Linked DNA regions of Homo sapiens. The protein of the gene in region 3 purifies or fractionates together with the protein of the main gene of each other region. This does not show direct contact. Each region holds a gene or a part of one and is shown on either strand. Other genes may lie near its edges.

What was found. Proteins that work in one complex are often made in the same cells at the same time.
Region 1: the proteins of TMEM63A (region 3) and UBAC2 purify together in Homo sapiens (affinity purification with mass spectrometry; one large-scale study listed by BioGRID and IntAct). This does not show direct contact.
Region 2: the proteins of TMEM63A (region 3) and AP3B1 purify together in Homo sapiens (affinity purification with mass spectrometry; 2 studies listed by BioGRID and IntAct, with this or other methods). This does not show direct contact.
Region 4: the proteins of TMEM63A (region 3) and AP3S2 purify together in Homo sapiens (affinity purification with mass spectrometry; 2 studies listed by BioGRID and IntAct, with this or other methods). This does not show direct contact.

What each region holds. Positions count from the first base shown.
Region 1 is NC_000013.11:99,242,354-99,245,853, reverse strand, and holds part of UBAC2 (ubiquitin-associated domain-containing protein 2 isoform 1 precursor), read right to left. Parts: intron 2,023-3,500; coding exon 1,903-2,022; intron 1,340-1,902; coding exon 1,230-1,339; intron 1-1,229. UniProt on the Homo sapiens protein: Restricts trafficking of FAF2 from the endoplasmic reticulum to lipid droplets.
Region 2 is NC_000005.10:78,288,199-78,291,698, forward strand, and holds part of AP3B1 (AP-3 complex subunit beta-1), read right to left. Parts: intron 1-3,500. UniProt on the Homo sapiens protein: Subunit of non-clathrin- and clathrin-associated adaptor protein complex 3 (AP-3) that plays a role in protein sorting in the late-Golgi/trans-Golgi network (TGN) and/or endosomes.
Region 3 is NC_000001.11:225,858,381-225,861,880, reverse strand, and holds part of TMEM63A (mechanosensitive cation channel TMEM63A), read left to right. Parts: intron 1-883; coding exon 884-1,021; intron 1,022-2,531; coding exon 2,532-2,685; intron 2,686-3,500. UniProt on the Homo sapiens protein: Mechanosensitive cation channel with low conductance and high activation threshold. In contrast to TMEM63B, does not show phospholipid scramblase activity. Acts as a regulator of lysosomal morphology by mediating lysosomal mechanosensitivity.
Region 4 is NC_000015.10:89,830,099-89,832,546, forward strand, and holds the end of AP3S2 (AP-3 complex subunit sigma-2), read right to left. Parts: 3' UTR 501-2,448; downstream 1-500. UniProt on the Homo sapiens protein: Part of the AP-3 complex, an adaptor-related complex which is not clathrin-associated. The complex is associated with the Golgi region as well as more peripheral structures.

The sequences.
Region 1 (3,500 bases), on a different chromosome or scaffold from region 3:
GGTATTTTGTTTGTTTTTTGAGGCGGAGTCTCACTCTGTCACCCAGGCTGAAGTGCAGTGGAGCGATCTCCGCTCACTGCAACCTCTGCCTCCCGGGTTCAAGTGATTCTTCTGCCTCAGCCTCCTGAGCAGCTGGGACTACGTGCCACCACGCCCAACTAATTTTTGTATTTCTAGTAGAGATGGGGTTTCACCATATTGACCAGGCTGGTCTTGAACTCCTGACCTCGTGATCCGCCCACCTCGGCCTCCCAAAGGTGGCATGAGCCACCGCGCCCGGCCTGTTTTTTTGTTTGTTTGTTTGAGATGGAGTCTCGTTCTGTCAACTCTACTCCTAGATTCTAGTTATTTCACACACTAATACATGGTTTTTGTTTTTTTTAAAGAAGATCAACGCAATATGAAAGCATACAAATTCTGAGTGGGGTTGGCCACGGCAGGTTGTCTACAAAGTTATAACCTATACACCGGCTTTGTTTTATGTTTGATGGAAGTGTTTAAACATTATCAGCTTTTAAAAAATTATTCTTCAGAAGCTTAACTTCGTACAAATTAATTTTGTTTCCTAATCTAATTAAACTATATTTTTGTGTTTAGTTCATAAAATTACAAAGACAAATTTCACTATAAAAACACACAAAACTAATTCTATCAGGATCAGAATAGGAAATTCACTTAAAATTCTCTAAAACACAAACTTTCAAAGCTAAAAAAAGAAGGTGCCTGGGCAAGGTGGCTCACACAGTGGCTCAAGCACTTTGGGAGGCCGAGGCGGGTGGATCACCTGAGGTCAGGAGTTCAAGACCAGCCTGGCCAACATGGTGAAACCCTGTCTCTACTAAAAAATACAAAAATTAGCCAGGCATGGTGGCACGTGCCTGTAGTCCCAGCTACTTGGGAGGCTGAGGCAGGAGAATCGCTTGAACCCGGGAGGCGGAGGTTGTAGTGAGCCGAGATCGTGCCAATGCACTCCAGCCTGGGTGACAGAGCGAGACTCCGTCTCAAAAAAAAAAAAAGTAAAATAAATTTTAAAGAAAGAATATAAAATTGATTCTATTTCAAGAACATAATAAAAATGTAGGCATAGATTAGACTTTTTACATATAAAATCAATTTAACTATATCTAGAAGTTTAAAATATTATTTTACTGACTTTCACATAATAATAATAACACTTTAAATCAGATTCAAGTAGTTCTAAATTAAGTCAATCTTTAAGTGCTACTTACAATCCAGAAGGCAAATTACTAGCTGCAGTGATGCCAAAGAAATACTGCATAGCTTCAATGAGGAGAAAGTCAAATAAGGCTGACAAAACCCAGGAACCCAGCAAAAAGGACTACAAAATAAAACAGCAGAAAAATGATAGAGATGAGTCTCCTAAAAATAAACTAACATTTATTCAGCTAGAATCAGCTCAGAGGTGTGTATTCATATGTATGTGTGTGTGTGTATATACACACATGCATATGTGTGTATATATATTTGAAATTATTTGTTTTTATTAAAATAGACTTTAGAAAATGGGCGGGGTAAACCCATATTGCTCAAATGTATTAACAGCCATAATTTTTAAGTATGTTGAAGATATATTTTTAACAAGTAAAACACAAACCACTAAGCAAAATAAATTATAATTTTATTAAAGTCAAAGTATTAAAATTTGTATTAGTGTTCACAACTAATACTACATATTATCATTATCACTATTATTATTATGCTAATGTCTTACATTTTAAAATTTTCTTTGGTTAATGTCCATGTGCCTCAAATCAGATACAGAATAGTGTAATTAAAAAGATAACTGTAAATAACAACACCAAGTTTAACAAAATAAAATCCATTTAAACAAAATTTTTTTCTACAGCCTAAGTAGCAAAGACAAAATACATAAAAACTTACTGCAAATTTTCTGCTTCCATATCTTCTTTCAAATATCCTAAAATTATAAATAAGCAGACTACTGCAGAAAGTATCTTTCAAATCAAGGCAAATTATTCTTCCACATATCAACCTCCAAATCTAGATGGGGATTTAAAAAAGAACAATAAACAAGAGTAAAATTTGTTCGGGTCTCTTCCTTAGCAAATTTGTTATGTTTACACTGCCTATTTTTAATGTCCTAAACAAAATCATAATGCACACACCAAAGGAAAACTATATATGTATGTTCTCTGAGCTCAAGTCTCTCATAGTAAAAATTCCTCCCAACAGTGGCACGAAAGGTACTTGAATTTTTTTGTGCTTATAAGAAAACATATTCTCATTAAGATAACAGAAAACTGCCTATAAGAAATTTCAGGATCACGTTTAGTAAGATTTTTTAAAATTATATACGTAAACTAGAATGAAAGGCTAACAAATGTTCATTTTTATGTTATTGAATAAGACAAAGTTGTAACTGAAAAACAACTTAGGTATAAACTCAAAAATATGCATTTCTGAGCTTAATTTTAATCATCAACTTACTTCATAGCAACTATGCAAAGTAATTTATGGCAACTGCTGCTAAATATGACTAGGTTTGAAATATTAGTTTATTTAAATCATTGTTTCACCCAACTTCTGGCTGCATAAAAAACATATAAGGGGACATACAAAAAAAAAAAAAAAAAAAAAAGAGCTACTCAAAGGCCTATTTTTGAGTCTGCTTAAACATTTTTCAGATTTTTAAAGATAATCCCAATGACATCTCAAACATCCTAATCTTATTTCCCCTTCACAATGACCTTATGAGATAGGTAAAACAAATATTAATTCCAACTTTTCTTTGTATTTTTATTGTGGTAAAACAGATATAAAAGTTAAAATTTTGCTGGCTGCCCAGTCTGGAAAGTGAGGAGCGTCTCTGCCCGGCCGCCATCCCATCTAGGAAGTGAGGAGCGCCTCTTCCCGGCCGCCATCCCATCTAGGAAGTGAGGAGCGTCTCTACCCGGCCGCCCATCGTCTGAGATGTGGGGAGCACCTCTGCCCCGCCGCCCCGTCTGGGAGGTGAGGAGCGTCTCTGCCCGGCCGCCCCGTCTGAGAAGTGAGGAGCCCCTCCGCCCGGCAGCCACCCCGTCTGGGAAGTGAGGAGCGTCTCCGCCCGGCAGCCACCCCGTCCGGGAGAGAGGTGGGGGTCAGCCCCGGCCAGGCCAGCCGCCCCGTCGGGGAGGGAGGTGGGGGGGGTCAGCCCCCCGCCCGGCCAGCCGCCCCGTCCGGGAGGGAGGTGGGGGGGTCAGCCCCCCGCCTGGCCAGCCACCCCGTCTGGGAGGTGAGGGGCGCCTCTGCCCGGCCGCCCCTACTGGGAAGTGAGGAGCCCCTCTGCCCGGACAGCCGCCCCGTCCGGGAGGGAGGTGGGGGGGGCAGCCCCCCGCCCGGCCAGCCGCCCCGTCGGGGAGGGAGGTGGGGGGGTCAGCCCCCCGCCCGGCCAGCCGCCCCGTCTGGGAGGTGAGGGGCGCCTCTGCCCGGCCGCCCCTACTGGGAAGTGAGGAGCCCCTCTGCCCGGACAGCCGCCCCGT
Region 2 (3,500 bases), on a different chromosome or scaffold from region 3:
GTATGCCACACTGAAAAGTTGAATTACACAATTTAACACTAATTGTATACTTGAATTACTGACGGTTAGTTCACATTAGCCTAATCTCTCCAAATAAAGTCTGAGTTTCTTAAAAACAAGATAAAGACACTATAATTGTTATGCATTTTTATGGTGAAAACACAGAGGAATGAACCATACATATGGAATAATCCAAGACTGGGAGGTAAAGATGCCTTTGAAGACTGGGATAAAGACTAAAAATCCTGATTGTAAAGTTCATTCCATACCTACATGACAATTCCGAGTCAGTTAATCCTAACCACAGCAAAGACCCAAGTGAACTACACAAAATTAGCTTCAGGGTGATGCTGTACTACAATACAATGGAGATACCAGATGAGGGTTTCCTTCTGTATAGGGTCCACGGAATCAGTCATGCTTCATTTTTTAACAACATTGGCTAATGAGAGAGCAAATGTTAATGGAATCTAAATCACTGAATTGAGTAAAAGGATCTGAAAATATTTTATTAAGCAAAATTATGAGCCAAACACTTTGCTAGGCACCTTCACACAAATCACAGTCTTTAATATGAGCAGAATGTGTGAACGATTTATCTATATAAATATTTAAGAAATATTCACTGAGCAACTACATAAACTGAAAATACACAATGAGATAAAGTTTAAATGAGAAATACTAGGATAAGCAAAAAGAAAGTAGAGCAAGCTCTAAACAACTAGACCATGAAAAAATGTTAAATGAAAAAAAAAAACACCCAAAAATATGGTACAGACACTAGATAAAATTAAGTATTAATAAAAAATGGACTTAAACACAAACAAGTTTAGAACCCATAGTGAGACACAATGACTCTTTGAGGTAGGTCAAATATAATGCGTTACTATTAATAAAATTGTATTTTTAAGAAAGTATATTCAATAACATCCCTCTAAGTAAATGAATCTCACTCAGCTGCATTTCTATATGCCTTTCAGAAAGATACAAAAAGTAGTGGAGATAAAGTCAGAGTTGCTATAATTGCGTACAAACCACAGACACATGTAATCTTCCTACTGGACTCTCCTGAGAATCACTGATATTAAAGGTTAAGAATGAATGTAATAGAATTTTCATGTTTGATATTGTAAAGTTGACAATGAATAAGATTTAAGTTAAAAAATAAGTCAGGCTTTATTGATGCAATCCAAATACACTGGGTTGTATTACTGACTACAGGAAAGCATGCAGTACTTTGCTTGGATCTAAATTAGCTCTTTGAATCTAAACAAATGAAAAGCCCACCCCGATTTAAACAGAGTAAAAATGCTACCTTTCAACGTGTGCAGGAGGTACTGCATTGCTAAGTTACTGGCTGCTAAAGTCACCTTTCAGTTGTTAAACCCAAGGGCCTCTTTTCAGCCTTCATTCTATTTGCCCTTACTCTACAACTCCTGACATAGCTGAACATTTCCTTCTTTTAATTTTCCTGTTAGCATCTTCTTTTTTAAACCTTCCTGTGTTTTCCCACCCTTCTGAGCTCAGTCTCTTTTTCTAGTTCTTCCATTCATACTTTATATCCTGTTGTCCCCTGGGTTTTGTCCAAACTGCCTTCTCGTCTAACAAGAAAAGTCTTCCCTGGGTGATTTCATCCATTCCCATACTTTACTACCTACTATTCATAATTGTGATGTCTAAATATCCATCTCATTTGAACATGCTTTTTCTTTTGCAAATCTTCTGGTTTCTACATACTCTGCCTAAAGAATCCATCTTTCCTCCCCCTGGCAAAAACCTCAGGCTTTAAGATCTAAAGTGTCACTACCTCAGTGAAGTCTTCACCAACTTTCCCAAATAGCGTTAGTTAATATCCTAGTTTAGAAATCACTTTGAAGTACACCATCTCATGAGATCCTCACAAAAGAGGCAAGTATTATCACATCCCGTCTAGAAATGAGGAAACTGAGGTTTGAAGAGATCAGCAACTTGAACAAGGAAGCACTACTACAAATGGAAAACATCAACTTAAATCCAGGTCTTCTAACTCTGGGCCCAGTGTTTTTTGTTTTTTCTTCCCATTTTCATTTATAGAGACAAGGTCTCACTATGTTGCCCAGGCTGGTCTGGAACTCCTGGGTTCAAGCAATCCTCCTGCCTGGGCCTCCCAAAATGCTAAGATTACAGGCAGGGGCCACCATTCCCAGCCTCAGTCTTCCTTCTAATACACCAAGATGCTCTCAAAGGAAAAGAGATTTACAAATTTAGTAGCTTTACTATTGTAATTAAGAAAAATTAATTAGTCTTGTCTGTTTCTAGAAATTAATTCCTAATTAAATGTTTAATCCAGTAACAGAATTATTAAAATTATTTTTAATTATAGGCACACATACCCAAATTGGTTAAAAGAAGTTTTTTTTTAAATGAAGAAAAACAACTTAGAAAAAAACAGAAAATAAAAGTTGAGAATATTTTAAAAAGAAGGAAGGGGCCAAGCACAGTGGTACACGCCTCCAATTCCAGCACCTTGGGAGGATGAGGCAGGCGGATTGCTTGAGCCTAGGAGTTCAAGACTAGCCTGGGCAACATGGCAAGACCCCATCTCTACAATAAATACAAAAATTAGCTGGGCATGGTAGCATGCACCTGTAGTCCCAGCTACTCGGAAGCCTGAGGTGGGAAGGATCACTTGAGCCCAGATGGTTGAGGCTGCAGTGAGCCATGATCACACCACTGCACTCCAGCCTAGGCAACAGAGTAAGACATGTCTCAAAAAATAAAAAATAAGAGTACAAAAATAAGTTCTTTACATTTTAAATAAAGAAATTGAAAATCTTGAAGCCAATAATCTAATACACAGGCCTTTTTAGCCAATAAATTAGGTATAGGATCTACTTTCATAAAGCCATCTAATTCTGCTTCTGTTTGAAGAGAGGAGAAGATAAATAATATTGATAAATAAGATTAAATTCAGAAAACAAAAATTGCCGATAATACTATGACTAGGAAGTACCTAGGCATCATTGAGATGGTTAGTGAAGGATCAGTGAACACAGAGCTCTAGGCCAAGAAGCCAAAGAGCAGAACAGCAGAGGGAGTTGCAGCTGAAACATTACCATTTTGCAGCCATTGTGGAAAAGACAGGTTCAGGAGATTGATCAATGGTTGTTAAATGTAGAAGTGGTCCATTTAAAAAAGAGCAAGACATCTGCATGGTCTCAGTGTCTCCCCACAGATAATTTGAAAAAAAAAAAAAAAAAAACAGAAATGACACCACAGAGAAACTGGACAACCCTGTGACTAGGAAAATTAACATCATGAAGATGGACAACCTATGCCTCCAAATGTAATAGTTCAAGAAGCATGCATCACCTATGGTAGTATCCCAGCCAAGGATACATAACCTGAATCTAAACATGAGGAAACACCAGCAAACCCAAAAACTGATTAACATAAAATAAAATAATAGGCTTTGCAATCCTTAGATATGTCAAATTCATGAAAGACAAAAAAGGCTAAGG
Region 3 (3,500 bases):
GGAGGCACCCTCCTTTCAGACATCTGCTCTGGGCCACAGATCCTTCTGTCTGTGGCTCCCCACCTTCCCACAAATGCAAAGCTGTGGGGAAGACCCCTGGGGCACGCTGGGGCGCTCACTGCAGTGGGGAGCTTGACCCTGGGGAGTGGCTTTTCACAGTGGCCCTTGGCATGGGACTCTAGGCTCTCATGCCTGTGGTCTCAGTGTCATCTCGCCTTAGGAGCAGCACAGGGTGGGTCGGGAGAGGGGTGTGGAAAGGTGTCCAGCCACTGCCCCAGGCATTGTGACACTAGGAATGGACTCACACAGGACTTCCTGCCTCCTTGCAGACACTGGGGCAGGAGGAAAGGGGAAGGCATCTGAGGCAGGAGTAGAGGGGCTGCTGGGCTCCTTACGGGAGGTTAAAGGAGGAAAAGCTGTGACCTGTTGAGATGGTGAGGGTCGAGGTGGGAGCCCTGAGGAGGGAAGCTTGGGAACAGGCAATGTGTAACGTGGTCTATTGCTACACTTGGGCCTGGGGAAAAAGTGACAGAATGAAAAGTTGAGCCACTGGCCTGGCAGTAGCACTGATCAGAGCTCCAGCTTAACAGGCAGGGTGGAGGGGGATGGCCCTATGGAAGAGCAGTGTGTTGCCCTCAGTTTCCTTATCTGTAAAATGGGAATCGTACTCCCTTTGTTGCTGGTGGTTGCGAGGATTAAACAAAATTCTCCACACACTGTGCTAGCGTGGCACCTCTTACATAGCGTTACTCATAATACACTAATCACAACAAAGCAAAGGTCCTATGCCACTGCCTCCCACTCCTACTCAGTCCCCACTTGCCACATGTGTGCTTGGTAACCTGAGTAGCCTGGGCCTGGCTGTTGCTACATTTCCTTGCAGCATCCTGAAAGATTTCAATGCCTGCAAGTGTCAGAGCCTTCAGTGCAAAGGTGAGCCCCAGCCGTCCTCCCATAGCAGGGAGCTCTATACCTCCAAGTGGACAGTCACCTTTGCTGCTGACCCTGAGGACATCTGCTGGTAAGCTCCTAGACCAAGGAGAGGTGGGAGAGAGGCCTGGGTTCCTGGTGGGAGCTGCCCATCACCTGGAGCACAGGTGTGACCTGGCAGTCAATGGAGATCTCCACACATCTGCAATTCTGTGGGCTGTGATGCTGTGATGTGCTCGGTGTGGCCCAACTGGGGTATCTGCCCAGCCCTTCCCTCCAGTGTTCCTCCCTAGCATTCAAGTGCTACCCAGCAGAAATATAATGCCAGTTCTGCATCTAATTTTAAATTTCCTAATAGCCATGCTAAAAAAGTAAAAAGAAACAGTTGAAATTAATTTTAATAATGTATCTCGCCCAATATATCCAAACTGTTATTTCAACATGCAATTTTTGAAAAATGTGAGATGTTTTACATTCTCTTTTTCACACTTAGTCTTCAATATCTGGTGTGTATTTTACACTTCTAGCACCTCTCAATTCACACCAGCCACATTTAAAATGCTCAGTAGCCGCATGCAGCTTGTGCAGCCTTACTTAGGTCCAGTGTCAGCCTGGGGCCGTGCTGGGGAGCTGAGCTGTGTCCATGGGGGCCCTGGTGAGCCTCCAGTGCTGTGCTGAGGGTAAGGGCACCCAGCGCAAGCCCCAGCGCAGCTGCCTGTCCAGCCCTGCCTCAGCTCCTTGCACAGAATGAGCTTGAAGTGCTCCCCTCTGCTCGGTTCTAGTTCTGCCTCTGACAGTTTTGCTCTTTGGTTCACAAGGCTTCCTAAACTCAGGATTGCTTTGTGGGTCTGTTCTTTGGGATGAGAGGCCAGGGCAGGTGCAAGCTATGCCTTCACTCCTTTGTCCCTGCCTTCCTCCTTCCTGTACCCCAGCTACAGCCCCGTTGGGAAGAATGTGTCGTTAGTCACAAAGCATTGCAGATGTGTCTAAGAAATGCCACGCTGGGGCCGGGCGTGGTGCTCACACCTGTAATCCCAGCACTTCGAGAGGCTGAGGCAGGCGGATTGCCTGAGCTCAGGATTTCAAGACCACCCTGGGTAACATGGTGAAACCCTGTCTCTACTAAAAATACAAAAAAATTAGCTGGGTGTGGTGGTACACGCCTATAGTCCCAGCTACATGGGAGGCTGAGCAGGAGAATTGCTTGAACCTGGGAGGCAGAGGTTGCAGTGAGCCGAGATCACACCACTGCACTCTAGCCTGGGTGACTGAGCAAGACTCTGTCTCCAAAAAAAAAAAAACAGAAAAAGAAAAAATAAATGCCATGCTGGAGCCTTGTTTGGCCTGCTTGGGTGCTCATGCCATCTCTTTGGGTAGGTTCTGGCCCCCAGACTTTAGCTGGGGAGCCACATCTGAGAGAATAATTGTTCCCTCTGAGCTCTTGGGGACCTAAGATTTGGTCTTTCTGTAGTTGAAGGTCAGTGCAGAGAACTTGCCCCCAGGCTAGTCTCTTGGTCTGCCTAAATCTGACCTTCTGACCCACCTAAGCCACGAGCACTGGGAGACAAGCCTCGAGACCTGTATCCCCTCTCCCGCTGCAGGAAGAACCTCTCTATCCAGGGCCTCCGCTGGTGGCTACAGTGGCTGGGCATCAACTTCACCCTCTTCCTGGGGCTATTTTTCCTGACCACACCCTCCATCATCCTGTCCACCATGGACAAGTTTAATGTCACCAAACCCATCCATGCGCTGAATGTGAGTAACTGTTCTGCAAGGCCCCTCCCAGGATAGCTGGTGAGAAGAGGGCTTGGTGGGTGGGGAAGGAGTGGGGACAGGAGTGGGGTGTGTGCGGGGAACTAAACCAGTGGGTCATGTTGCTCAGCTCACATCCTTGCTTTTAAGCCCTGAGCAGGCATGGCCACATTTATTACAAAGTCCTTATAGTAATGCCATACACACACACACACACACACACACACACACACACACACACACACACACATTATATGTATATATACACACACATGCATACATATATATTTTAATAGACTATCTAAATACTGAATGGTAGGGATCATTTGAGTTGAATGTGGTATATTCAGGTTGGTAGACTATCAAGCATCCATTCAAAATTGTATAGATTTTGTGGCACCCATGCAGGGCTCCTGACAGAAGCAGGGATGTACCAGTGAGGCATGTCTATCATGGACACTACGGGGAGGGGCCAGGAAGGAAGGAAAAAAGCTTCGTTGATTGGGGTGGCAGGATCACAAATTATTTCTTTTACATTTTGGTTGCTAATGACCTTGTTATAAAACTATTTTGGGGCCGGGCACGGTAGCTCACGCCTGTAATCCCAGCATTTTGGGAGGCCAAGGTGGGCGGATCACCTGAGGTCAGGAGTTCGAGACTAGCCTGGCCAACATGGCACAACCCCATCTCTACTGAAAATACAAAAATTAGCTGGGCGTGTTGGTGGGCGCTTATAATCCCAGATAGTCAGGAGGCTGAGGCAGGAGAATCGCTTGAACCGGGAGGTGGAGGTTGCAGTAAGCCGAGATTGCACCACT
Region 4 (2,448 bases), on a different chromosome or scaffold from region 3:
CCACTGAAAGTGCTTCCTTGACTTGAAGTCGCCCGCTGTCCAGATGCTCCTCTCTCCCCTGCCCACAGGCTCAGTCCTCAACCCTCTTGTCCCTCGGCCACAGCGCTCACCCCCACACCTCCAATCATCATCTCTGGGTGGAGACTCATTTCCTCTCCTGCCCACTCAGTTTCCCAGCTGGCTGGTGGACATCTGCCCCCAGAGATGCTTGGACAACCCCAACCGAATGCGTTCCACATCCAAACTCCTGATTGCCACCCTCCCAAACCCCCTCCCTCTCTCGAGAGCCCCATCCTTGCGCCTCCTCGTTACACGGGCTCCACCTGCCAACACCAGCTCTGCCATTCTCCTCTCCCTCAGCCTCCACGAGCCATCATCGGGTCCTTCCCACTTCCTGCTTCCAATACCACTATTCTGGTTCTCCTTCCCAAGTGCTGAGCACAGGGACCTGGAGAGCACATGCTGAGACTGTTAGAATGAACTGCCATTTGCCTCAACCGTTCACTCATCCAACAGTTATTTATTGAACGCCATGGACCAGGTACCGTGCCCAGCAGCTGGGATGCAGCACTGAACACGAGACAAGCCCCTGCCCTGGAGGGGCTTACATCCCGGCAGGGTAAACAGCCAGTAACTTCAGAAACCAAACATCCAGTACGTCAGAGTGCCATGGGAAAGGTACGCTGAGCAAGGGCGGGCAGTGCCAGGGCTGGGGTGCCACTGTACAGGGTGATGGGGAGGCCCTCCTCCCTGGAGAGGGCGGCATGATCCTAGTGGGCCGAGGTCAACCGCCAGGGTCAAACGGAACACAACCCACTCTCAGGAAGACATCCCTAACACAAATCCAGGGACTTTGTTTCTTAACCTTAAAATTGGAAACACTTCTTGCTACCAGGGATGGGGGGTGGGGCTCAGCGTTTGGGGAACCGGAGTGGGAGTCTTTTGCTGAACAGACTTTTGTTTTCTTAAGTTTTGAACTACATGAATGTATTTCCTTTTTTGAAAGGAAAATTGAAATAGGAAAAAATTTTAAGTCTTTTGGAAAGAATTAATCATTTTCATGGAACTGCTTCCCTATAGGGGCCTGTTTTCGTATCTGCCAACTTCCACTGAAACACGCAGATGGAGAACCCTCCAGTGCTCCCGAGAAGGGAGACAGTCTTAACCCAGAGGACAGCATCCACCAGCCTGCAAGCACGGACCCCGTGCTGGTGTGTGAGTGCAGCACACACTGGGCTAACCATCACCACAGTGAGACTGGCACCCTCTGGGGTAGGGTAGACTCAGGAAGGTGAAAATCAGGATGTCTGCCAGGAGCTGACAAATCCCTCTGGGACTCTCATACTTCAGAGGCTCTCCAGTTTGGCTATTGCTAAACTTGGACTAGCCCCTACTACCGATCTTAATACCCATGTACCAATCATTGCTGCATCCTATTTGGAAAGCAATGGACAGACAGCCACGCTGAAAGCCCTTACTAGAGACTGGTCCACAAGATCAGATTTAGCTGCCCCTGGTTTGAGCCTTGCTCCCCTGGTGTCTTTTCTGGCGAAGCTGGGCCCAGAGAGCGTTTTACTAAGTGGGCTCCATGGTAGTGGAAGTGGTGGGGACAGAAGGCTGGCTCTATATGTGGCAGAGGCCTGAATAAACAGGGATTTGAGAGGGCTCAAGATATCCTGACTTAATCCTCAATGTGGCAGGCACAGGGCCATGGCCAGGCCTAGAGGAAGGTGGGCTGTTTGGGGTATGGCCCAGCAGGGCACGATGTGATCAGGTAGGGCGTAGGGAAATGGGTTACTGTCCTCTAAATATTCCATATATCACAAAGTTACTGACTGCGGTCTCCACAAATTCAGGCTGCCAGTCCGATGCACTATATCCCAACAATCTGAGCACTCTGTCAAAGATGCTCACAGAGACAACAGGAGCAGACAGAGCCTTGTTTCTCTCTTAATCTTCAGAGCCTAGAACTGAGCTTGGCCCTCACCAGGCACTTAGAAATTGCATAATGAAAGAATTTCAGATTTTTATTAGTGGCAGTGAGCACTGAAAACCCAGTATTTGGCCAGGTCCAGTGGCTCACACCTGTAATCCCAACATGTTTGGGAGGCCAAGGCGGGAGGATGGCTTGAGGTAAGGAGTTAGAGACCAGCCTGTGCAACATAGTGAGACCTTATTCTACTAAAAAAATAAAACTAGCCAGGAGTGGTGGTTGCGTGCCTGTGGTTCCAGCTACCTAGGAGGCTGAGGTGAGAGGATCACTTGACCCCGGGGCTTCGAGGCTGCAGTGAGCCATGATCACACCACTGCACTCCAGCCTGAGCCACAGTGTGAGACCCCCATCTCACAAAAAAAGGAAAGCCTAGTATTCTATACAACCTTAACCTATTTTTTTTTTTTTTTTTTTTGAGACGGAGTCTTGCTGTGTTGCCCAGGCTGGAGTGTAGT